7 linked regions of the Homo sapiens genome follow. The protein of the gene in region 4 purifies or fractionates together with the protein of the main gene of each other region. This does not show direct contact. Each region holds a gene or a part of one and is shown on either strand. Other genes may lie near its edges. The genes, in order: GTF2H2C, STAT5B, TUBB6, SEC24A, UBE2B, TTC1 and FGL1.

Region 1 (3,500 bases), about 65 Mb from region 4:
AGGCAGAGGTTGCAGTGAGCCAAGATTGCATCACTGCACTACAACCTGGGTGACAGAGCAAGAGTCTGTCTCAGAAAATAAAACCAAAAAACTGTCAAATGATTCAAAAAGTGGTTCCAGTTAAGAGTAAACTACTGATGTCAAAGAGGTATATAAAATTTAATAAAATTACTTTATAAATTGTGACAGTGGAAGAGCAATACTTCTAATTATTATTTTATATAATATATATAGTTTTAAATATGAACATGTAACTAAATTAAAAATTAAAGCTAGACAGTGATCCATATTATTTACATCTATACAAATTTATTTATTAAAGTTGGCCCTCTTCAAAATTTAAAAAAGTATTTTCTCATTGGCATAATGGAAGAATCACCTATTATCTGTGGCCACCTTAAACAATTTCAATGTGTTATCACACAGCTTAAAGTATAATATGAAGAAAATATTTTAAATACTTTCAGACTAAATGCAGTTTAGCTTGAAAGCTAAAGACAAATTACATGTTTTACAAGGGTGTACCAAAGTAGACAAAACAATCAAAGAATTTAAAAAAAGAGGAAAAAAATTAAAAAATTTTTAATAAAAAGTTTTAAAAAGATGAATTACAAAATACTTTATAGCAAAAATTAGAATGCAGAATAACAAAACTACTATTTAAACTATTTTGTTCCTATTTTACCTTCACCTATTGTCATTATCTTTACAAGAAATAAACTGATATGAGCCTGGTCTTTAACAACCTGTTGAAAACTTATAGTACCATTGATTTCAATATTTCTTGTACATTACTTAATATTTAGAAAGCCAAAGAACTTACATGTTGGTCTTTCAATTCCCCCTGACATCCATAACAAAATCTGAAAAAAAAGTTTAACAATGTTTTTTCTTAGAATTTACTCATTAAAATAGTTCAACAAAATCTCACTAACTAGAATCCTTTAATTAATATGTACTTGTCTTTACACATGACTTTCAGGAAAAAGAGTTAAGAATACCAATAGGCCAGGCACAGTGGCTCACGCCTATAATCCCAGCACTTTGGGAGGCCGAGGCGGGTGGATCACCTCAGGTCAGGAGTTCGTGACCAGCCTGGCCAACGTGGCGAAACCCCGTCTCTACTAAAAATACAAAAATTAGCTGGGCGTGATGGCAGGCGCCTATAATCCCAGCTACTCAGGAGGCTGACGCAGGAGAATCGCTTGAACCCAGGACACGGAGGTTGCAGTGAGCCGAGATGGTGTCATTGCACTCCACACTGAGCAACGGGAGCAAAACTCTGACTCACAAAAAAAAAAAAAAAAAAAAAAAAGAATAGCAATAATTTAAAAAAAAATTCCACAGTATATACAAGGTCATCTGACAGCCCAAAATTTAGTTTTTATTTTCATTAAGGTTAACTGTGAGCATGCTTTATTTTTCTTTGTTTTCGAGTCAGGGTCTTGCTTTGTCTCAAAGGCTGGAGTGCTGAGGTGCTATCACAGCTCACTGCAGCCTCAACCTCCTGGGCTCAAGTGATCCTCCTGCCTCAGCCTCCTGAGTAGCTGGGACTACAGGCATGTATCTCCATGCCTGGCTAATTTTTTATTGAGGCAGGGTCTCGCTATATTGCCCAGGCTGGTCTCGAATGCCTGGGCTCAAGCAATCCTCCTATCTTGGCTTCCCAAAGTGTTAGGATTACAGGCATGAGCCACCATGCCCAGCCAGAAGCACTTTCTAACGTTTGTTTGATAGTCACTTATTCTAATAAGTGCTACTTTGTGATTCTTCACAGTTATTGGCTATAAATCTCCAACTATGAAAGAAGAGAATTTAATTATCTTTCAATCATCTTGAACCCAGTAATGCATAAATATTTAACTAGTGTCATTCTCAATTCTTTCTACATAGTGAAGTCTTCCTTTTGGATAGAACAATAATCAATGTTTAGTTTACTATGCCTATAAAAATATTCTCAGCTAAGCCATAAGTTTTCCCCTATTTAAAACATTTTTTTTTTCCTGGAAATACTGTGTTGCTATTCCCAAGGTTAGTTTCCTATATAATTGACACTAATTCAGGCCCAATCTTCTCCGGAATAGTCTAACTGTCCTCTCGATATGTTCAAATACATCAGGAGTTCTGCAGTTTTCATCCCCTTGGTGATCTCTCTCCTGGAGCATCCTGACTGTCTCCAAACTGGACGGTTCCCCATATGTGACACACAGGTATCATTCTGGAATTTCTCCTTACCATCATCCTAGGCCGTTCTTCAGCCTGTTTTGAATTAGATACATATTACTAGATCCCATGTCATTCTCCTTCTCAGTTCCTTTGAATCACCTACCTCTTCCAGACCTTCCCCAGAAAAATCTCTTTTTGAGACCTTACAAGTCTGAAAATGTCTTTATTCTACCTACACTTAACTGATAGTTTGGCTGGGTATCTAAGTTGGTAACAATTTTCACCACAAACTTTGAAGGTGACTGCTCCCTCTCTGCATCCGGTGTTGCTAATGAGAAGCCAAACAATTTTAATTCCAGATCCTTTGTGTGTGACCTAGTTTTTCCTCTCTGGAAATGTTTAGGGTTAATGGTTTATTGTGTATTCTGAAATTTCACAATTATGGGGTCTGCCTTCCTTCAATACGTTAGGCACTTGGCAGTCCCTTTCTTTTATCTTCGTTGCAGAGATGAGGTCTTGCTGTGTGACCCAGGCTGGCCTGGAACTCCTGGCCTCCAGTTATCCCCCAGTCTCAGCCTCCCAAAGTGCAAGGATTAGAGCTATGAGCCACCCTTCCCAGCCAACAGGCCCTTTCAATCTAGAAAGTTCTGTCCTTCAATATAAAATTTCTTTGAACTATGTCTTTGATGATTTTCTATCCTACTTTTTTTCTTTTTTTCTCGTATCATTCTCATATTGGACCTTCTGGATAATTCCACCAGTATTCTTATCTTTACTCTCCTATTTGAACCTCTTTATTTTACTCCTTTTATTGTACTTTCTGGAATATTTCTTCAACTCTATCTTCTATAGTACTGGGTTTTTCATTTTTACTACATTTAACCTCAACCATAAGCAAATAAATACCAAGCTAAAACAATGAGACTTTTTTCTTTTTCTTTTGCCTGTGAGTTTTGGCCAATATAAAAAAGTTTCATAATACCTAATGTTGGCTAAATGTGGGAAAACAATAAATGAAACTTCTTTGAAGAACAACTTTACAATATCTATCAAAATTCACAAAACATGTAAAACTCTTGACTCAGTAATTTTACCTCTAGGAATTTACCATGCATTTATACTTGTACAAATGTTCAAAAATATAGATATAAGCATTATTTGTTAATAGCAAAAAAAGAAAATCTTAAATATCCAACAGGAAGCAATTGATTATATAAACCATAATTATACCTGAAATATGCAACAATTTCAAAAACAACATTGATCTAGATATGGTGATATTGAATGACTTCTAAATGACTTAAGTGTGAAAAGCAAGATGGATACATAATTGT
Region 2 (3,500 bases), on a different chromosome or scaffold from region 4:
CACTTCAGGAATATGGTGAGGGTGGAAGAAGAGGAAGAATGAATTTTTCCCTGGTCTTTGAGGGGAACAACTTATATCTTACGTTTCATCTTATGTTTCTTCTTTGTAGTCCCTGAAACGAATTAAGAGGTCAGACCGTCGTGGGGCAGAGTCGGTGACAGAAGAAAAATTTACAATCCTGTTTGAATCCCAGTTCAGTGTTGGTGGAAATGAGCTGGTTTTTCAAGTCAAGGTAAAGCCTTCCCTCAGCTCTGCGTGTGCGTGTGCGTGTGTGTGTGTGGTGTACTTTATGTTACAAAATATTTTTTTTTTATCACATAGCATCTTCTTCTTTTTGACTGTTGGTAAACTGAAAATGGACTGACCTCACCCTGAGAACTGTTTCACTTAGGTTCTCTTAAGACATGAACAGAGGCCAAGCACAGTGGCTCATGCTTGTAATCCCAGCACTTTGGTAGGTTGAGGCAGTCAGGTCACTTGAGGTCAAGAGTTCAAGACCAGCCTGGCTAACACAGTGAAACCCCATCTCTACTAAAAAGTACAAAAATTAGCCAGGCGTGGTGGCACGTGCCTATAATCCCAGCTACTCAGGAGAATCACTTGAACCTGGGAGGCTGAGGTTGTAATGAACCGAGATTGTGCCACTGCACTCCAGCCTGGGTGAAAGAGTGAGACCCTGTCTCAAAAAAAAAAAAAAAAGACATGAACAAGCAAGGCCCAGTGCAGTGGCTCACATCTGTAATCCTAACACTTTGGGAGGCCAAGGCAGGAGGATTGCTTGAGTTCAGGAGTTCCAGACCAGCCTGGAGCTGGTTGTGAGACCCCGTCTCAACAACAACAACAAATTAAAAAATAAAAAATAAAACATGAACAAACAATAATGAACTGAACTAGCTGGAGAGGTAGACTACAAAATGGATATGAGAAACATTACTTGGGATGAATTTGAGTAAAGGTTGTGGTAAGTTTTAAATTTGTTATTTGTATTTTCTTCCCAGAAATATCTCCAATAGTCTTTTCTCTCTCCTGTTCTCCATGTAACTTTGAGAAACTTTATCCTTCAGAAATATCTAAGCAACATTGCTTGTAAAATATTTAAAATTTCTAAGATTGTGCCAGTATGAAAAGTCATATTATTCCTGGGGCCATTTAGATTCTGTGTCTGAGAGGAACATTAACTGAAACTTGGAAAATAAAAGTGTTGTTATAATAAGAAAAAAAAAAAAGAGAGAAGGAGAAGAACTTGAGGCTCGTGGGCGCTCAGCCTTCTCTTGTGTCTTTTTAGACCCTGTCCCTGCCAGTGGTGGTGATCGTTCATGGCAGCCAGGACAACAATGCGACGGCCACTGTTCTCTGGGACAATGCTTTTGCAGAGCCTGTGAGTGTATTCCTCGGGCATGTGGGTCCCAAAATCAATGCCGGTGTCATGAATCTCATTTATGTATTATCCTTTTAAAAAGCATAGGAAAAGGCCGGGTGCAGTGACTCACACTTGTAATCCCAGCACTTTGGGAGGCCGAGGCGGTTGGATCACCTGAGGTCAGGAGTTCGAGACCAGCCTGGCCAACATAGCAAAATCCTGTTTCTATTAAAAAATACCGAAAAATTAGCTGGGTGTGGTGGCACATGCCTGTAGTCCCAGCTACTTGGGAGGCTGAGGCACGACAATCACTTGAACCCGAGCGGCAGAGGTTGCAGTGAGCCGAGATCGCACCACTGCACTCCAGCCTGGGTGACAGAGTGAGACTCCATCTCAATAATAAAAAAAAAGCATAGGAAAAAAGACGCTGTTTTCTTTAGTGGGAGGCAGAATAGAAAGAATGTGGAAAGTGGAAAGAACATGGGCTTGACATCGGGCCAGGGTTTGAACTGAGACTCCACCATTTCCTCACTCCATGACCACATGGGCAGTTCACTTTACCTCTCTGAGCCTGAGTTTCCAGCAAGTGTCTGCAGCACAGGGATACTCTTGCTCTACAGCATTGTTAGGAAGATTAAATTAGATAACATAGAAAATGCTTGCCACACAGTCAGTACTCAGTAAATATTATTTTGAATCCTTGGGTGAAACTATGAATGGGATTTGGGACTCCTAGGTTCACTCCAGAGGTTAGATCTCTCCAGAGGCTTACTTTAGCATAGAAGTTGCTTCATACCCTCTTCCTTTCAATAAATGAAGATGCTGTTAAATGTCTTTTCCAAATTTTAGTTTCTGTGATTCATTCTAGGTCTCATGAAGAATGAGATACTTTGCCTCAAGGAAGATATAATTTGGTGGATTTATGCACCCAAACGCTATCTGAATCCCACTAGCATGCTGCTCGATGAGCATTTTAAAGATCTCATAGGCTGGGTGCGGTGGCTCATGCCTATAATCCCAGCACTCCAGGAGGCCAAGGCAGGCAGATCCCTTGAGCTCCAGACTAGCCTAGGCAGCATAGCAAAATCCTGTCTCTACAAAAAATACCAAAAAATTAGCCAGGCATGGTACACCAGCCTCTAGTCCCAGCTACTTGGGGGGGGCTGAGGCGGGAGGATCGCCTGAGCCCAGGAGGTCCAGGCTGCAGTGAGCCAAGATTGTGCCACTGTACTCCAGCCTGGGTGACAAAGCGACACCCTGTCTCAAAGAAAAAAATTTTTTTAGTAGGCAAAGGTCATTTGTTACATATTTCCAATAGAGATTAGTCCATAAAAGCATGATAAAAGGGTTATCATTTGGGACATAAGAGCATGTCCTTCTCTAAGTATATCCAACAAACCTTGATTATGTTTTGTTTTGTGGCTGTTAGAATATAGGATTTGACTGTTAGTTCAACAGCTCATTTACAAAACAGCATGGACAGCATGGGTTACCTTCCAGTTGTGTGTAAAGAAGGTGAAATGGAACCTTCTGGCTCACGTGGAGAGGCTTAACGTTTCCCAACACTCCTCTTTAGAGAAAAAGTATTTTACTGCAAAGGTGAGATTTTTAAGAGATTTACCATACTTCACTTACAAACTCTGAATCAGAAGCTCCTTTTTGAAACTGTCTGTCTGCCTCTTGTCCTGATAAGCCTCCTAGATAAGATTGCCACATCTCTTGTTTCCTTCCCTGCCTGTCCACAGATCTCACTCTCTGTGTACCTTTGGCATCTCCTGCACCATGTAATTACTCAAGTATCTTGTCTAAATAAATAAGCATTTTTAACATTCTCAGCTATGTTAATGACTACTTACATCTTATGCTATTTTTTTTTTTTTAATTTTTTTGAGACAGAGTCTTGCTCTGTCACCCAGGCTGGAGTACAGTGGCATTATCTCGGCTCACTGCAGCTTCTGCCTTCTGGATTCAAGCGATTCTCCTGCCTCAGCCTCCCGAGAAGCTGGGATTACAGGTGCATGCCACCACGCCCAATTAATTTTTTATATTTTTAGTAGAGACCAGGTCTCACCATGTTGGCCAGGCTGGTCTCGAATTCTTGACCTCAAGTGATCCACCCACCTCGGCCTCCCAAAGTGCT
Region 3 (3,500 bases), on a different chromosome or scaffold from region 4:
AACTAATTCAAGTCATAAAAACTTGCATTGCATTATACAGACCTCTCCCCACTTACTCCAACTTGACTTTTGTCTACACACGGCTGGTGGCAACAATTCACAGCCACTGCCAAAGACCAGCCTCTCTGGTTTCACGTGGGCAGGTCCATCCCTGATGCTGCACTCACCCTGGGGGCACTGAACTATGAAGCAGTGAAACCACCAAGGCTGCCTCTGAGAGCTGCCAAGTGCTACATCGGGTAAGCAAGCTGCCTTTCACTTGTCAATCTTTAATTAGTGGACAAGGGGCTCCCATGCAATTTGGGACACGGGCCTGCTCACAATGAGGTCTACTGATGGCACCCCTGGCTTCTGCAGTACATAACAAGTGCAGCCTTACACAGTGGCTCTACTCTTGGGGGGGATGAAGCATTTATCAGTGCTACACACTGTAGGTGTTCAGTGCAAGAAAAAACAAATTCTGTGATTCTTCATTAAGTGTACTGAACTTAATGTTAAAATGTATGTACTGGACTGTTAATAACTCATATCACATATAAAGGATACCCTCCTTCAATATCTAAAGAAGTCCTTAAATCAGTAAGAAAAACAACAGCCATTAGGAAAACAGGCAAAGGCTATAAACATACAGCTCACAGGAAAGGAAATTCCAATAGCTTAGGTACTGGAAATAATGCTAAACCCTTCTCATAAGGGAAACGCAAATTAAAACAAGGAGATTCTATTTTTCTGCTGTGAAACTGACAGAGATCCAAACACCTGAGTTGCACTGCTGAGGGTTTGGGGAAGGCCACTTCCCACGGGAGCTACTGGAGATAGCAAGGGCAGTGGGCTGTAGAACAGCTGAGCTACAGCTATCAAAATTATCCCCCTAGACACAGCAATTACACTTCTGTAAGTTTTTCTAGATAGACCCATACATGTGCAAAATGACATATATACAAATGTTTACTGAGGAACAATTTATAATAATAAAAAGGGGAACAACCCAAATACCTATCAACTGAAGACTGGTTAAATCCACGGCGGTATCTCTGCAGAGGATACTATCAGCCATCAACAGGAATGAGGCAGCCATACTTGTGAAATGGAAAGATCTTCAAAATACGTTGCTGGGGAGCCAGGGAGGAACACTAGGGTACTAAACAGTGTATACAGCTGGCTCCATTGTATGTGTGTAAATATATGCGTCTGCCTGAACATACCTGAAAGGACATTCAAGAATCTTAACACTAGTTCGGGGTAGGAAGGAGATCAACTTTTCACTATATACCCTTTTGTTCCTTTTAAGTCCTAAACCATGAAAATGTTTTACCTAGCTAGCTAGCAAAATGAAAAAAAAAATTACTTTATTAAAACATTTACAATGCAATTAAGAAAGCACAGGTTGTCTTTGAAGGATGGGGTCCTAAGAGAGTTCATTTCTAGCTTTATGACATTTTAACTAAAACATTTATTTTATGATAAGTGAATATTAAAGTATAAAAAAGGAATTTTTTATTATTATTATTTTAGAAATGGGGTCTTCCACTGCTACCCAGGCTGGAGTGCAGTGGTGCAATCATAGCCACTGCAGCCTCCAACTCCTGGGCTCAAGGGATCCTCCTGCCTCAGCCTCCTGAGTAGCTGGGACAATTAAAAAAACATTTTTTTGGCTGGGCACGGTGGCTCACGCTTGTAATCTTAGCACTTTGGGAGGCCGAGGCGGGTGGATCACGAGGTCAGGAGATTGAGACCATCCTCGCTAACATGGTGAAACCCCGTCTCTACCAAAAATATAAAAAAAATTAGCATGGCATGGTGGCGGGCGCCTGTAGTCCCAGCTACTCCGGAGGCTGAGGCAGGAGAATGGCGTGAACCCGGGAGGTGGAGCTTGCAATGAGCTAAGATCGCACCACTGCACTCCACCCTGGGCGACAGAGTGAGACTCCGTCAAAAAAAAGAAAAATTTTGTAGAGAGGGTCCCCTTATGTTGTCCATGTTGGTCTTAAACTTTTGAACTCAAGTGATCATCCTGTCTTGGCCTCCCAAAGTGCTGGGATGGCAGGTGTGAACGCCTGAGCCCAGCTCTTCTTTAATGAAAAATTTTAAAATGTCATCAGTAAGTGGGAAATTACTAAATGATGACATATACAATGGTAGGCACTGTGACTGTCACGGAGGATGTCTGAGATACATTAATGAATTTTTCAAAAGGCTGCAAAATGGTGTGTATAGCAGGATCCCATTTTCCCCAGACAAAATCAGCTCTGTGTGCTCACCTAGGTGCACATGGACACAGAAAAATGTCAGCAGGGCCGGGCGCGGTGGCTCACACCTGTAATCCCAGTACTTTTGGGAGGCCGAGACAGGAGGATCACCTGAGGTCAGGAGTTCGAGACCAGCCTGGCCAATATGGGGAAACCCCATCTCTACTAAAAATACAAAAAATTAGCTGGGTGTGGTGGCAGGTGCCTGTAATCCCAGCTACTCCAGAGGCTGAGGCAGGAGAATTGCTTGAACCCAGGAGGTGGAGGTTGCAGTGAGCCGAGATTGCGCCATTGCACTCCAGCCTGGGCAACAAGAGCGAAACTCCGTCTCAAAAAAAAAAAGAAAAAAAAAAAAAAGGAAAAAGGAAAAATGTCAGCAGGACACAGCACAACTGTCTACACACTCGGTTATCCCCCTAGGGAATAAAACCTCAGGGGCCACCAGTAGAAGGGATGACAGCTTTCCCTTTCTGCACTGTATACACAATCTATGTGTACTGTTTGAAAAAACCATGTACAAGCACTTTGTTTTAACTTTGACATGAAAACATTAAACACTTTTTTTTGTATAAGACCAGCTATGGGAGCTCACACCTGCAATCCTAGCACAGGAGGGTGAAGTGGGAGGACTGCTTGAGCCCAGGAGTTTGAGGCTACAGTGAGCTATGATCACACCACTGCACTCCAGCCTGGGTGACAAGGCGAGACCCCATCTCAAACAAACAAACAAACAAAACCACACATTTAAATATTGAACACTGAAGTTTCCAGAGAGCAGAACTGGCCAGCTGAAACTGACCACAGAGGGCCCTTGCACTTGTCTGCAGCATCAGCCTCCCTAGATCTCCGTCTCAGTCCCACTGAGAAATCAGCTCAGCCTTTCTCTCCTATTGTCTTTGCCCCATTTGGCAGTCCAAAGCCCAGTGTCACTGGCATGGCAGGCCCTATGGCTCTGCAGAGGGGCCGGGCTAGGCAGATGCCTGCTGTGTGCTTGCAGCACACCCCGTGGGCCTGGCCACTTTAGTACTCTCAGGTGGCCGTTTCCTTGTGTTTTTCACAAGCCGTAGACAGCATCTAGTATGTGACTGTTCTCTTACAAACAGGGGATTCTCTTCTTCCTGCCCAGCTGTGTTGCACAGTGAATCCTAGCTGACTGCCTTCTCTTAGTAGGCGAGAAAATGGTCACCGTCCTTCCTAAGCCCCCACCAACTTCTCTCCACCCCTTCCCCACCCAACCTAGCAGGCAGCACC
Region 4 (3,500 bases):
GCTGGGACTACAGGTGCCCGCCACCACGCCCGGCTAATTTTTTGTATTTTTAGTAGAGACGGGGTTTCACCGTGTTAGCCAGGATGGTCTCGATCTCCTGACCTCGTGATCCGCCCGCCTTGACCTCCCAAAGTGCTGTGATTACAGGTGTGAGCCAATATTTCTTTGAAAAGCATTTAAAATTCTGTATTGGGATCTGCAGGTTGATACTTCTCAGCAGACAGCCTCAAGTTTATGAAATAGTGTAGGCTTCCAAGTGAAATAGTAATATCAATAGTTACCTTTTTAACCTTATGTATGTTTATATGGCATATACTCCATCAGGCTTGTAAATTGTTAATGGCTGAAACTTTATTTTTCCAAGCCTTTGATCAGACATTGGCCCTGGTGAATGCATTTTGGCCTTGTAAAGATTAAAGCTGCTTCTAGAAACTTAAGTTTCTTTGTGGAAATCTTCTGACCTGCAATTAGTAGAGCTAAAATCCTTCATGTTACTTTTGTTCTAATTCATTTGATACCATGAGTGAGCATCAATCACTTGAAATGAATGAATATGGTGGCACACATCAATCACTTGAATGAATGAATGTGTGGTCCCAGCTACTCGGGGGGCTGAGGTGGGAGAATTGCTTGAGCTCTGGCAATTGAGGCTGCAGTGAGCTATGATTGTGCCACTGCGCTCCGGCCTAGGTGACAGAGTGAGACTTGGTCTAAAAAAAAAATTTAAGTGTTAAAAAAAATGTTATCTATATTATTTTCCAGGCTCTATCAAACTTTGATATCATTATCTGTTTTTCTGTTTTGCTTTTTATTTTTTAGAGATAGGCTGTCTCTCTGTTTCCCAAGCTGGAGTGCAGTGGTGCAATCCTAGTGTCATCAAACTGCTGGGCTCAAGCTATCCTCCCGCCTCACCTCCCTGAGTAGGCGTGCCACAGTGCCTGGCTAATCTTTTGTTCTTTATTTTTTTGTATAGACAGGGTCTTACCCTGTCGCCCAGGGTAGAGTAGGGTAACACGATCATAGCTCACTTAACTGCAACATAGCTTGCTGTAACTGCTGACCTCAAGCCATCCTGCTGCCTGGATTTCCTAAAGTTCTGGGATTACAGGTGTGAGCCACCTAGCCAGGCCTGCATTATCTTGTTTAATCTTCGTAACAGTCTCTTACAGATCTAAAGTATAAGACTTGAATAATTTGCCCAAAGCCACAGTAAAATAGTTTGGGAAAACATTTATTTAAAAACTATTTAAGGGCCAGGCGTGGTGGCTCACGCCTATAATCCTAGCACTTTGGGAGTCCAAGGCAGGAGGATCCACTTGAGGCCAGGAGGCCAGGAGTTCACTAGCCTGAGCAAAATAGCAAGACCCCATCTCTATTTTTTTAAATAATTTTATTTAAAAATAAATAAATACTAAGAGTAGGTGTAGCTTCTCTTAAAAAGGTACATTATCAATAATCTGAAATTTCTTTAGCTATAATAGAAACCCTCAGAGCACCTTGTCTCCACTACAGATTTGGTGAGAGAGACATAAATAAGTGCTGAGGCTGGGCATGGTGGCTCACGCCTGTAAGCCCAGCACTTTGGGAGGCTGAGTCGGGTGGATCACCTGAGGGCAGGAGTTCGAGACCAGCCTGGCCTACATGGTGAAAACCTCGTGTCTACTAAAAATACAAAAATTAGCCAAGTATGGTGGCACGTGCCTGTAATCCCAGCTACTCAGGAGGCTGAGGCAGGAGAAGCGCTTGAAGCTGGGAGGCGGAGGTTGCAGTGAGCTGAGATTGCACCACTACCTTCAGTCTGGGCGACAGAGCAAGACTCCATCTCAAAAAAAAAAAGTGCTGAAACTTATGAAAGAAGGGGAAATAAAAACATATAAACTAATAAAATGAACCTAAAAAGTAACCTTCTTTTTTCTCATTTGAACCTTCAAAGAACCTTCAAATTCCTCATTTTTTTTCTTTTTTCCAACTCATAACTGAGAGTTGGTACCTGATAGTCTGGTATCAAAGCTGTGAGTATTTAGGTTATACTAAGTTTTTAGTTCATATATTAAATTTTCCTGAATTTTTTTAATAGGTCACCTTTAAGCATCATTATACTCATTTAGGGGCTGAGAGGGCAGACTCTGAAACTCTAGCTATCAGTGTCGTAAATAAGAATTCTTCAACTTGAAAAAATGTTCATTTTATGAAATATATGATTATCTGTTCAAAAATAGTCTTCTAAAAGCTGTGAAAATCTCTGTAAGTTTACTTTTATTCGTTAAACATTAGGTTGTAGGTTACATCTTTGTGGCCAGATGTATTTTACATTCTTGTTCATGCTGAGTTGGCCATGTACCTTGCCCCTTTGTTCCTTTGACTTGTCTATACTGCCATAGATATGTGTGACCACTTCTTTGATAAGGGAGTTACATGGCAATAATCTTTGTCTTCACTTTTGTCAACAAGGCACTGATAGTCTTGTTAGCAGTTGTAAGATTCAGTAATAGGCAATTTTTCTTTTTCTTTTTTTTTTTTTTTTTTTTTTTTGAGACGGAGCCTTACTCTGTCGCCCAGGCTAGAGTGCAGTGGCGCAATCTCGGCTCACTGCAACCTCCGCCTCCCAGGTTCAAGCAGTTCTTCTGCCTCAGCCTCCCTAGTAGCTGGGATTACAGGCATGCGCCACCACGCCCAGCTAATTTTTTGTATTTTTAGTAGAAACGGGGTTTCACCATATAGGCCAGGCTGGTCCCAAACTCCTGACCTTGTGATCCACCTGTCTCAGCCTCCCAAAGTGCTGGGATTACAGGCGTGAGCCACTGCACCCAGCCTAATAGGCAATTTTTCAACTTGATACTGGAGTATTTAACAGTATTGGTGAAACATTTTGAAAAATTTCAGGCTGAGCGTGGTGGCTCACGACTGTAATTCCAGCACTTTGAGAGGCCGAGGCGGGTGGATTACGAGGTCAGGAGTTTGAGATCAGCCTCCAGCCTGGCCAATATGGTGAAACCCCATCTCTACTAAAAATACAAAAATTAGCCGGGCGTGGTGGCGCGCACTTGTGGACCCAGCTGCTGCCGGAGGCTGAGGCAGGAGAATCGCTTGAACCCAGGAGGCGGAGGTTGCAGTGAGCCGAGATTGCGCCATTGCACTCCAGCCTGGGGGACAAGAGTGAGACTTCGTCTCAGAAAAAAAAAAAAAAAGTGTTCCTTCTGCCTCGGTCTCCCAAAGTCCTGGTATTATAGACATGAACCACTGCTCCTGGCCCCCTATTTTTATTTTTATTTATTTATTTATTTATTTTGAGACAGAGTCTCGCTCTTGTTGCCCAGGCTGGAGTGCAGTGACGAGATCTCAGCTCATTGCAACCTCTGCCTCGCAGGTTCAAGTGATTCTCCTGCCTCAGCTTCCCAAGTAGCTGGGATTACAGGTGCCCACCACCACACCTGGCTAATTTTTTGTATTTTTAGTAGAGATGGGGTTTCACCATGTTGGCAGGCTTGTCTTGAACTCCT
Region 5 (3,500 bases), 280 kb from region 4:
GCCTTTAGCTATGTTTCTGTAGCTAGACTCTTACAAAGCTTCCAAATTTGAGGTCAAGTTGTTTTAATAACTCCTGAATTAAAAGTAATACATGGTCGGGCATGGTGGCTCATACCTATAAACTCAGCACTTTGGGAGGCCAAGGTGGGCGGATCACCTGAGGTCAGGAGTTTGAGACCAGCCCGGCCAACATGGTGAAACCCCATCACTACTAAAAATACAAAAATTAGTCAGGCATGATGGTGGGCACCTGTAATCTCAGCTACTCAGGAGGCTGAGACAGGAGAATCACTTGAACCTGGGAGACGGAGGTTGCAGTGAGCTGAGCTCACAACACTGCACTTCAGCCTGGGTGACAAACCAAGACTCTGTCTCCAAAAAAACAAAGGTAATATGTAAGCCAGGCACAGTGGTGCACACCTGTAGTCCCAGCTACTCCAGAGGCTAAGGCAGGAGGGTGGCTTGAGGCCAGCCTAGGTAACATAGTAAGATCCTGTCTCTACTAAAAGAAATAGATAAAAGTATTATCTATTTATTTGTGGAATTGTGAAAAATAAGAAAAATCTGTTGGCTAAAATTAAGCTTTTCAAAAATACAATTTTGGCCAGGCGTGGTGGTTCATACCTATAATCCCAGCACCTTGGGAGGCCAAGGTGGGAAGGTTGCTTGAGACCAGGAGTCAGAGACCAGCCTGGGCAACATAGCGAGGTCCCATCCCTATAAAAAACAAAAAAAATATCAAGGCATGGTGGCGCACACCTGTAGTCTCAGCTACTTATGGAGGCTGAGGTGAGAGGATCACTTGAGCCCAGGAGGTCAAGGCTGCAGTGAGCCATGACTGTGCCACTGCACTCTAGCCTGGGCAACAGAGCAAGATTCTATCTCAAAAGTACAATTTTGCATATACAAAGTTGGAGTCAATGACCACACACAGTGGTTCATGCCTATTAATTCCAGCACTTTGGAAGGCTGAGGAGGGTGGATTGCTTGAGCCCAGGAGTTCAAGACCAGCTTAGGCAACATGGTGAAACCCTGTCTCTACAAAAAATACAAAAATTAGCTGGGCACAGTGGTGCGTACCTGTATTCCCAGCTACTAGGGAGGCCGAGGTGGGAGAATTGCTGGAGCCTGGGAGGTTGAGGCTGTAGCAAGCCATGATTGTGCCACCGCTCTCCATCCTGGGTGACAAAGCAAGACCCTATCTCAAAAAAAAAAAAGAAAATTGGGATGTTATATATAAAATAAGGTGTTTTTTTTGGTTTGTTTGTTTTTGTTTTTTTAATATACTGTGAACATTTTCCTTAATAAATATTCTGGGCTGAGTGCAGTGGCTCACGCCTGTAATCCTAGCACTTTGGGAGGCCAAGGCAGGTGGATCATGAGGTCAAGAGATCAAGACCATCCTGGTCAACGTGGTGAAACCTCATCTCTACCAAAAATACAAAAATTAGCTGGGCATGGTGGCGCATGCCTGTGGTCCCAGCTACTCGGGAGGCTGAGGCGGGAGAATTGCTTGAACCCGGGAGGCGGAGGTTTCAGTGAGCCAAGATCGCGCCACTGCACTCCAGCCTGGCAACAGAGCAAGACTCCATCTCAAAAAAATAAATATTCTGATACATCATTTTTAATGGCAAAATGTTCTGTTACATAGATTTATCATATTTTTAACCAGTGTCCAATTGTTGATAGTTTTCAGTTGTTTACAATTTTAAATAGCACTTTGAACATTCTTAAAAATCTTAAAAATTTTTTTGTTGTTGAGAAAAACACTTGCTGTGTCACACAGGCTGGAGTACAGTCGTGTGATCTCGACTCATCGCAACCATTACCTCCCGGGTTCAAGTGATTCTCTTGCCTCAGCCTCCTGAGTAGCTGGGACTGCAGATGTGTGCCACCATACCCAGCTTTTTTTTTTTTTTTTTTTTTTTTTTTGAGACAGAGTCTTGCTCTATCGGCCAGGCTGGAGTGCAGTGGCATGATCTCGGCTCACGGCAACCTCTGCCTGTTGGGTTCAAGTGATTCTCTTGCCTCAGCCTCCCAAAGCTGTATATCCAGCTAATTTTTATATTTTTAGTAGAGACGGGGTTTCACCATGTTGGCCAGGCTGGTTTTGAACTCCTGACCTCAGGTGATCCGCCTGCCTTGGCCTCCCAAATGTTGGGATTACAGGTGTGAGCCACCGTGCCCGGCCTCAAAATAAATCTTTTCAGATACTAATTATTATTTTGATTGAGTTTTTTGTTTGTTTTTTTAATTGCTGCATAACAACTAGACTAAGTTTTTTAAACGTGGGGATTACTGGGTCAGAGGCTTGTGTGTTTTTAAAGCTTTTAATGTCATTTTCCATTTTTTTCCTTCAGTGGAATTGTTCTCATTTTCACTTCATAGAGTAGTTTGTTACTATTCTTCACTAAACGATGGCTAATTCCTTTGTAATAAATTTGGTCTTCCTTGACATCTTGCTGTTTACATCTATTACATTTATATTTCTGTATTATAAATTACCATGTGAAAGACTTCTCCAAATTCTTGAAGCTCCTCTTCAGTCTCACAGCCTTTGCTCATTTAAATGTGGCGTTCCCCATCAGCCAACTCACTTTCAGGAAGAACATTTTCAGAGGTCCTCTTGGTCGTGTCTCTAGTACTGCAGAATACATTATAGAGCTCCCTACCCAGAGGAGAGATGTGTTTCGTTTGTGTCTGGAATCAAGGTGACTTTCCAGTAATAGATACTACCTTTGGCACTTCATTTCTGTGAAGTTGCTTTTTCCTTCTAGCTGCCTTTTTTGCTTTTTTTTTTGTCCAAGACAGGTTTAATTTTATTTTCTGTTTCTCTTTTTGGGGAAGTTCCCAGGTCATTTACCATTTATTCCACTGTAGCTTTATCTTGCTTAGACTTGTTATTGAGTCAAACCAAACCAATTATGATAAGGGGGTCTTTAAATAAAGGTGGGAAAGACTGTAGAATGAGTAAGGGATATAAATATAGGGTTATCACTTAAGCAAATTTTTAAGAAACCACAGTGTATTTGGTTTTCACATCTCTTCATATTTATAGCATGGTTTCCCTTTTATTCTGCTGAGTACTTTTTTATAATTTAACTTTCTGGTTTATTTTTTTAAAAACATTTATTGAAATATAATTTACACACCAAGCTGTTGACCCACTTAAATTGTACAACTCAAATGGTTTTTAGCATAATCATAACCATCACCATGACCACTTTAAAAACAACAAAAAGCCCCATAACTATTATCTTAGCAGTCAACTCTGTTTGTCTTAACCCTCCCCGCTTCAGTCCTAGGTAAGTGTTACCCCTAACGTGTTTTCCCTCTAGATTTGACTATTCTGGATATTTCATATAAATGGAATCTTATACTATGTGGTCCTTTGTGACTGACTTCTGTCACCCAGCATAAAGTTTTCAAGGCTCATCTATGTTGTGATATAATAGTATCTGTGATTCATTTTTTATTGTTGAATAATATTCCACTGTATG
Region 6 (2,452 bases), about 25 Mb from region 4:
TTAGCAGCTTTTCTCACTCTGAGGCCTCCCATCTTAGAGTAAAGCCCAGGTAAAGAACTTAAAGGTGCATGGCCTTGGCTGGGTGCAGTGGCTCACACCTGTAATCCCAGCACTTTGGGAGGCTGAGGCAGGAGGATCATGTGAGCCTAGGAGTTTGAGACCAGCCTGGGCAACATAGGGAGACCCTGTATCTACAAAAATTTAAAAATTAGCTAGGTGTGGTGGCACACACCTGTTGTCACAGCTATGCAGAGGCTGAGTTAGGAGGATTGCTTGAGCCCAAGGAGTTCAGGGCTGCAGTGAGCCATGATCATACCATTGCACTCCAGCCTGGGTAACAGAGCAAAAAAAACGCATGGCCTTTACATTTTACAGGCCTCCCTAATAACTCATGGTGAGAACTTTTAGTCTCAGGCTTAAGAACTAGCCCAAGGAAGCTCACTATGTCCAGAGAAAGGCCAACCCATCTTTGGATAAAACAGTAAATTGAGAAAGCTCCCAGAACCTGGGATGGCTGTTCTCCAGGCAGGCCTCCCAAACCTAAACCTGGGACACACACGTTCTGTGCTGCTGCTTGTGTCAGGAAATCACTGGCATAAACCCTGGGTGCCTGCACAAGGCAGCGGCACAGCCTCGGGCACATGGGCGTAGAGGGAGGGGCTCACAACAAGCAAGAGAAAGACAGGGCAGCCTCAGGGTGACCTGAGTTAGCAACACCAACCAGGAACGCTGGCAGTTTGTTCTGGGGTTGGAAAAAGAGGACAGGAAGGGGGAAAAAAAAAACCATCAAAAGCAGCCCAAGAAAATGTTGGTACTGGGAAATCCTTGGCTCTTGTGATATGGAGTGAGTGAAGTGAGAATGAGTATCAAGAGCCACTCACATCAGACTCCTGAGGAGGGGCAGCTCCATGGTGGAGAAGCCTACTCTGGATGGTCCACTGAGCCCAGGGCCATTACATGGATGGAGGGATCACTGCAAGCCCATCTCCAGTGCCAGAAAAACAATTTAAAGTACAAACTGGAAATTTTACTTGGCATCTATCATGTAAGCCACTGGGATGTAAAGAATAAAAGTAGCTTCTATGCACAATGCTCAGTCTAGTGGGGAGGCAGACCCAAAAGACGGAGGTGTGCCCAGAGGTGCTTTCTGACCTTGCAGTGGCACGAAGAGGCTACATGCCACAGTGCTCCGGGGGATGGGAATAGGTCCAGGGTGGTGGCATGTCACCGTGCTCCAGAGATGGCAGCTTCCTCAGGCAGCAATGGCTTGGCTTTAGGCTGGTCTGCACTAAAGGAGGTTTCCCTCTAGTGCAGAAAGACCATTCCAAGCTAAGACTGCAAATATTCAAACTGCCGACGAGAGGAAGAATTCTCTTTCCCAGGCCCTCGTTTTGCCTAACTGGCTAAAGGGCCTGTGTGCCACAAGCCACCTTTGAACTTTTAGCTTGGTTGATTCTATGGTGTGGCAGTCATGAAGATGTATTTCTCCAAATGCAGGGGACAGAGTGGCTGCACTCTAAAATCCATCAGCACATTCATGCAGAGGCCACCCTTCCCACCTGCTGCTTCCAGCCAATGCCTGAGCATGGGAGGGACTCGTCTGAGGGGCAGCACTGGCTCCCCAATGGCTTTGCTGAAACTTTCTCAGCACCACACTCCAGTGGAAAACTTCCCCGCTCCCCCGGCCTTTCCTCCTCCACAGGGGTCTGCCAACTCTGCCAACAGCCTCCAGCTCCCAGCCCCATTTTCCCTTGCAGGTGTTTCCCCCAGTAAATCTCTTGTACTTTTAATCCTATCTTGGCATCTGTTTTTTGGATGACCCAAACTAACACATAGATAATTATTCTTTTTCCTTCAATTCCAGTATCTCTGCCTTTATAACATTTCACATTAGTTTCACCGACCATCACTTAAGGGGGAAAAAAAAAAAGAAAATGCGAAATTCTGCTTTCTAAATGAGATTACATATATATAATACCTGGCAGGTAGTAGACACATAATAAAAGGCACACAAATAAATAGTCTCTGCGTTAGAGAAGACCTAAGGTCACCTGACATAGATTAATTCAACCAACATGTACTAATTACATGTGTGTGGCACCTTGCTATGTGTGGTAGAGATGCAAAGATACATGACATGGTCTATACACCAAAACAAGCTTAGAATTTGACAAGGAAGAAAAGACATACACACAAAACCAAATTCATATGTAGCTGAGTTATAAAATGCTACGAGAGTCAGGAAGGGGAAGATTCCTTTGGCTGGGGCAGGAAGACAGGAAAGGGGTGGAGGAAAGAAGAGATTTGGTCTATCTTTGTCTAAGAGTTTACACTTGAACCAGGCACCAAAGGCCATAGGACTGCAACCATATGAGACAGAGGTGCTGTCCGTGCAAGCCCAAACAGCGTGAGCCAATGCACAGAGATAGGCAGGCGAGCTGTGTGTCCAATG
Region 7 (3,956 bases), on a different chromosome or scaffold from region 4:
ATTATTTTAATCCGCTCCCAGATAATATTCAGGAGTCAAAAATTAAAAATCATGAAATGTCTGTATCTTCTAGACTTTGCTTTAATGTTATTTGTTGAAAAATTTTTTTATTTGATTAAAGTTTTCTTATGCATTTGTGGGATCAAGTACTTTATTTCAGAAGTGAATAAATTAGCTTAAAAAGTTAGAGCTTAGCCAGGCGTGGTGGCTCATGCCTGTAATCCCAGCACGTTGAGAGGCTGAGGCAGGCAGATCACTTGGGTCAGGAGTTTGAGACCAGCATGGCCAACATGGCAAAACCCCGTCCCTACTAAAAATACAAAGAAATTAGCCAGGTGTGGTGGCACACACCTTTTATCCCAGCTACTGTGTTGGTTGAGGCATGAGAATTGCTTGAACCTGGGAGACAGAGGTTGCAGTGAGCCAAGATCACACCACTGCACTCCAGCCTGGGTGACAGAGTGAGACTCCATCTCAAAAAACAAACAAACAAACAACAACAACAAAAAACACCTAGAGCTTAAAAAAGAAATTTTCTCATTCCAATGTTTGATTCTGGCTCTTGCATAAATGGAAGTATGTTTTGAAAATGCTCTGAATGATGCACCTATATATCATATAATTTTACCTACGCACACTGTATATATACGTATATGTATGAACATAACATTATTATACATAATATGTATATATTATAGATTATATTATATATACATTATATAAGGTATATAAATATTGCTTAGCATTAGATTTAGTAAAAAATAAAGGGCTAATGAAATTTTTTTGACAGGCCTCTGTCTCTTGATGTCCTGAAATGTTTATCTCACTACCATTAAGATAATCCAATAATCAAAAAGGCACCCCCTAGTCTGGTAGCATATAAACAATAAAGCATTTCAAAATGTAATTATTTACATTTAGAAAGTCATTATATTACTTTGATTAGCTTTAGAATAATTCCTGAGAATATCTTAAGTTCTCTAAAATTTTCCATTTTCCTCCTTTGCAATTCTAACCAACATTCTCTGTAATATTGAAGAAATGCTAAGCATTAAGAAACTTGCTTTGAAATTCTGGTCTCCATCATTCATTATAGTAAACCATTATTTCTTCTGCACATCTGGCTTACAGTAAAGTTGTATCAAATTATTCTGTTCATTTATTGCACAATTAGTTGTATTTCTTTTATAATATTTTTGCCTTAGGCAGTATCAAAACTTTTAATTATTATAAAATTAAAATTGTTATCAAATGGCTGTTCTTTGGTGGACTATATTATTTTACATAATTTTAATGCTATAAATTCTAATTCCTTCCCCACTATATTTAAAAAAAATTTAATTAATTACGCTGCATTAAATTTAAAGATGAAGACATTAAATTTGTAAATGAAAAGTTCTAAAAATAATATATAATTTTTAAAAACAATTACAAAACAGAAGTACATTAGTAGCATGCAAACATTTCAAAACTGGTATGTTTTAAGCAAGCATTGTAAAAGGATATATAAAAGAAATAAAAAGGAAGGAAAAAGTTATTGAACGAAGTATGTTTAATAAGTTAGCATTCACAAACGCTATAGGACTATAATGCTTAGGACTATAACCTAAGTCAGTGAGTTAAAAATGTACCCATAAACACAAGCTTAGAGACTCCTTTTAAGCTATTTCCTTCCAAATTTTTTCCTCTTTCTGAAAATGGAATATAACTGTGCTTTTGTATTTTTCTTAAGAATCCATACTCACTGAAAGCCTTACAAAGCTAAATATAGTTGATCCCTCAAGAAATGCAATAAAGAAAAATGTTTCTGAAGTTTTTTGACTTCTGAAGTGAAAATTGTCATATAGTCCATTTTATTTTTAATTTTTTATACTGAAACTGTAAACCTATCATTTACGTCAAACTCCCATGCAATTCATTCAAAATGTAAAGGAAATTATACAAAGTGAGACTCCATCTCAAAAAACCAACAAACAAACGACAACAACAAAAAACGCCTAGAGCTTAAAAAAGAAATTTTCTTATTCCAATGTTTGATTCTGGCTCTTGCATAAATGGAAGTATGTTTTGAAAATGCTCTGGGTGATGCACCTATATATCATATAATTTTACCTGCGCACACTGTATATATATGTATATGTATGTACGTAACATTATTATACATAATTATGTATATATTATAGATTATATATACATTATATAAGGTATATAAATATTGCTTAGCATTAGATTTAGTAAAAAATAAAGGGCTAATGAAATTTTTTTGACAGGCCTCTGTCTCTTGATGTCCTGAAATGTTCATCTCATTACCATTAAGATAATCCAATAATCAAAAAGGCACCCCCTAGTCTGGTAGCATATAAACAATAAAGCATTTCAAAATGTAATTATACATATTTAGAAAGTCATTATATTACTTTGATTAGCTTTAGAATAATTCCTGAGAATATCTTAAGTTCTCTAAAATTTTCCATTTTCCTCATTTGTAATTCTAACATACCTTATTTGTATATCTGTATATTTGTATATCTGTATATCTGTAACAAAAGATACATAATTCTAAATCTCTTCTCCAAGTAGCAGAAGCAGACTCCTTGCTAGTCAACCTGACTTCTTGCAAAAGCTAATGGTTGTTACCTGAGTTTTGGTTACTATCATACCTGTGAAATAAATTAGCATTATTACAAGCATGTCAAAAATGCAGAGACATTAAATAACTTGCCTAAAGTCAGAAGTGAGTCAGAGACCCAGCTCAGGTTCCATCCAGACACTCTGCTTCCCAGGATCCTGTAACTGCATTGGGAATTTGTAATTATTTCTCCATTATTTGATTAGAAATAGGGACAATGTTGATTCTGGCTTCAATCCAGAAACAAACATGTGGACACAGGTTTAACTGAAAGAAAGCTAAAAGAGAAGATTCAAGGACAAATCCCAATACTCTGATATTTTTCTTTTTTCCCCACTTGTATGACTTTTTGTGAAAGATCCAATAATATATCTTTATAAAGATATATATATTTTACAACTTATTATTATGTTCATTCAGAGAATTTTTGTACTGTAACTTCAATAATGTTCCATTGAAGATTAAGTAAAAACGAAGTCCAGCTGAAACTTTGCTTTGTATTAAGGGTAATAACATTTTACCCACAAAAATATGAATTAATATGTCATCTCAACTAAAATATGGAGATAAGCCAAATTTTTCCTAGTTATAAAAAACAAGGCAGGTTAATAATTGCCAAGGTGAAATGGTCAGTTTATTTGCTCTCTAAGAAAAACAAAAGTATTCCCTGAGGTGCAAAATTGTGAAATTTAACTGGAAGCATCGATTATACTCTGGACAAGTTGTTCCTTTTGTTTTAAAATCCTCTAGAAGATTTTCTAATGTGTAATAGGCACTTGTTAGCTCCATTAATCGTATTGTGTAACAGTTTCTTACTGGAAATCTGGGTTCATCATTTCTTCTTTCCTTCTGATGTAACTCAAGCAGTTGTTTGCCATTTGTCCTGTGGTCCCTATTTATTCACTCAGATTCCAGTAAAATACCAAAGTTTTGTTTTCTTTCTGTTCTTTGTTATCTACTGGACTTGAGCACTGACGATGTTTGGTCTTCCCATTAAACATCTTCCTGTCCTTCACGTGGACATTTTGAAGATTATTAAGGGAAAGGTAATCCTGTTGATTTACTGGAAAAAAGAAGGAAAAAAAAAGCCAGTTAGACTGAAGTGATTTGCACACACACAGAAGAAGTGGAAATTATACATTCATAATTGTAGAGAATTCAAGCTGCTAATGTTAAATTTCAAAAGCAAAAATATGGGATTATTCGGCTAATTCAATAATGATCTCTGTGGTAAAATGACATATTTTGAAATACAAACTTATCTTTCCTTCTTGTATGCCTTTAGCTTTGTCCCCATTCAAGCAATAATTTAGCCTTGTGTTCATTT

Evidence for each region.
Region 1: the proteins of SEC24A (region 4) and GTF2H2C fractionate together in Homo sapiens (co-fractionation; one large-scale study listed by BioGRID). This does not show direct contact.
Region 2: the proteins of SEC24A (region 4) and STAT5B fractionate together in Homo sapiens (co-fractionation; one large-scale study listed by BioGRID). This does not show direct contact.
Region 3: the proteins of SEC24A (region 4) and TUBB6 fractionate together in Homo sapiens (co-fractionation; one large-scale study listed by BioGRID). This does not show direct contact.
Region 5: the proteins of SEC24A (region 4) and UBE2B fractionate together in Homo sapiens (co-fractionation; one large-scale study listed by BioGRID). This does not show direct contact.
Region 6: the proteins of SEC24A (region 4) and TTC1 fractionate together in Homo sapiens (co-fractionation; one large-scale study listed by BioGRID). This does not show direct contact.
Region 7: the proteins of SEC24A (region 4) and FGL1 purify together in Homo sapiens (co-immunoprecipitation; one large-scale study listed by IntAct). This does not show direct contact.

What each region holds. Positions count from the first base shown.
Region 1 is NC_000005.10:69,587,691-69,591,190, reverse strand, and holds part of GTF2H2C (general transcription factor IIH subunit 2-like protein), read right to left. Parts: intron 864-3,500; coding exon 824-863; intron 1-823. UniProt on the Homo sapiens protein: Component of the core-TFIIH basal transcription factor involved in nucleotide excision repair (NER) of DNA and, when complexed to CAK, in RNA transcription by RNA polymerase II.
Region 2 is NC_000017.11:42,213,892-42,217,391, reverse strand, and holds part of STAT5B (signal transducer and activator of transcription 5B), read left to right. Parts: coding exon 1-15; intron 16-109; coding exon 110-232; intron 233-1,285; coding exon 1,286-1,378; intron 1,379-2,789; coding exon of another isoform or gene 2,790-2,810; exon of another isoform or gene 2,811-2,860; intron 2,861-3,500. UniProt on the Homo sapiens protein: Carries out a dual function: signal transduction and activation of transcription. Mediates cellular responses to the cytokine KITLG/SCF and other growth factors. Binds to the GAS element and activates PRL-induced transcription.
Region 3 is NC_000018.10:12,318,241-12,321,740, reverse strand, and holds part of TUBB6 (tubulin beta-6 chain), read right to left. Parts: intron 1,206-3,500; exon of another isoform or gene 1,079-1,205; coding exon of another isoform or gene 997-1,078; intron 1-996. UniProt on the Homo sapiens protein: Tubulin is the major constituent of microtubules, a cylinder consisting of laterally associated linear protofilaments composed of alpha- and beta-tubulin heterodimers.
Region 4 is NC_000005.10:134,662,285-134,665,784, forward strand, and holds part of SEC24A (protein transport protein Sec24A), read left to right. Parts: intron 1-3,500. UniProt on the Homo sapiens protein: Component of the coat protein complex II (COPII) which promotes the formation of transport vesicles from the endoplasmic reticulum (ER).
Region 5 is NC_000005.10:134,381,569-134,385,068, forward strand, and holds part of UBE2B (ubiquitin-conjugating enzyme E2 B), read left to right. Parts: intron 1-3,500. UniProt on the Homo sapiens protein: E2 ubiquitin-conjugating enzyme that accepts ubiquitin from the ubiquitin-activating enzyme E1 and transfers it to a E3 ubiquitin-protein ligase. In vitro catalyzes 'Lys-11'-, as well as 'Lys-48'- and 'Lys-63'-linked polyubiquitination.
Region 6 is NC_000005.10:160,061,139-160,063,590, reverse strand, and holds part of TTC1 (tetratricopeptide repeat protein 1), read right to left. Parts: intron 50-2,452; exon of another isoform or gene 1-49.
Region 7 is NC_000008.11:17,892,725-17,896,680, forward strand, and holds the start of FGL1 (fibrinogen-like protein 1 precursor), read right to left. Parts: upstream 2,801-3,956; 5' UTR 2,723-2,800; intron 2,681-2,722; exon of another isoform or gene 2,501-2,680; intron 1-2,500. UniProt on the Homo sapiens protein: Immune suppressive molecule that inhibits antigen-specific T-cell activation by acting as a major ligand of LAG3. Responsible for LAG3 T-cell inhibitory function. Binds LAG3 independently from MHC class II (MHC-II).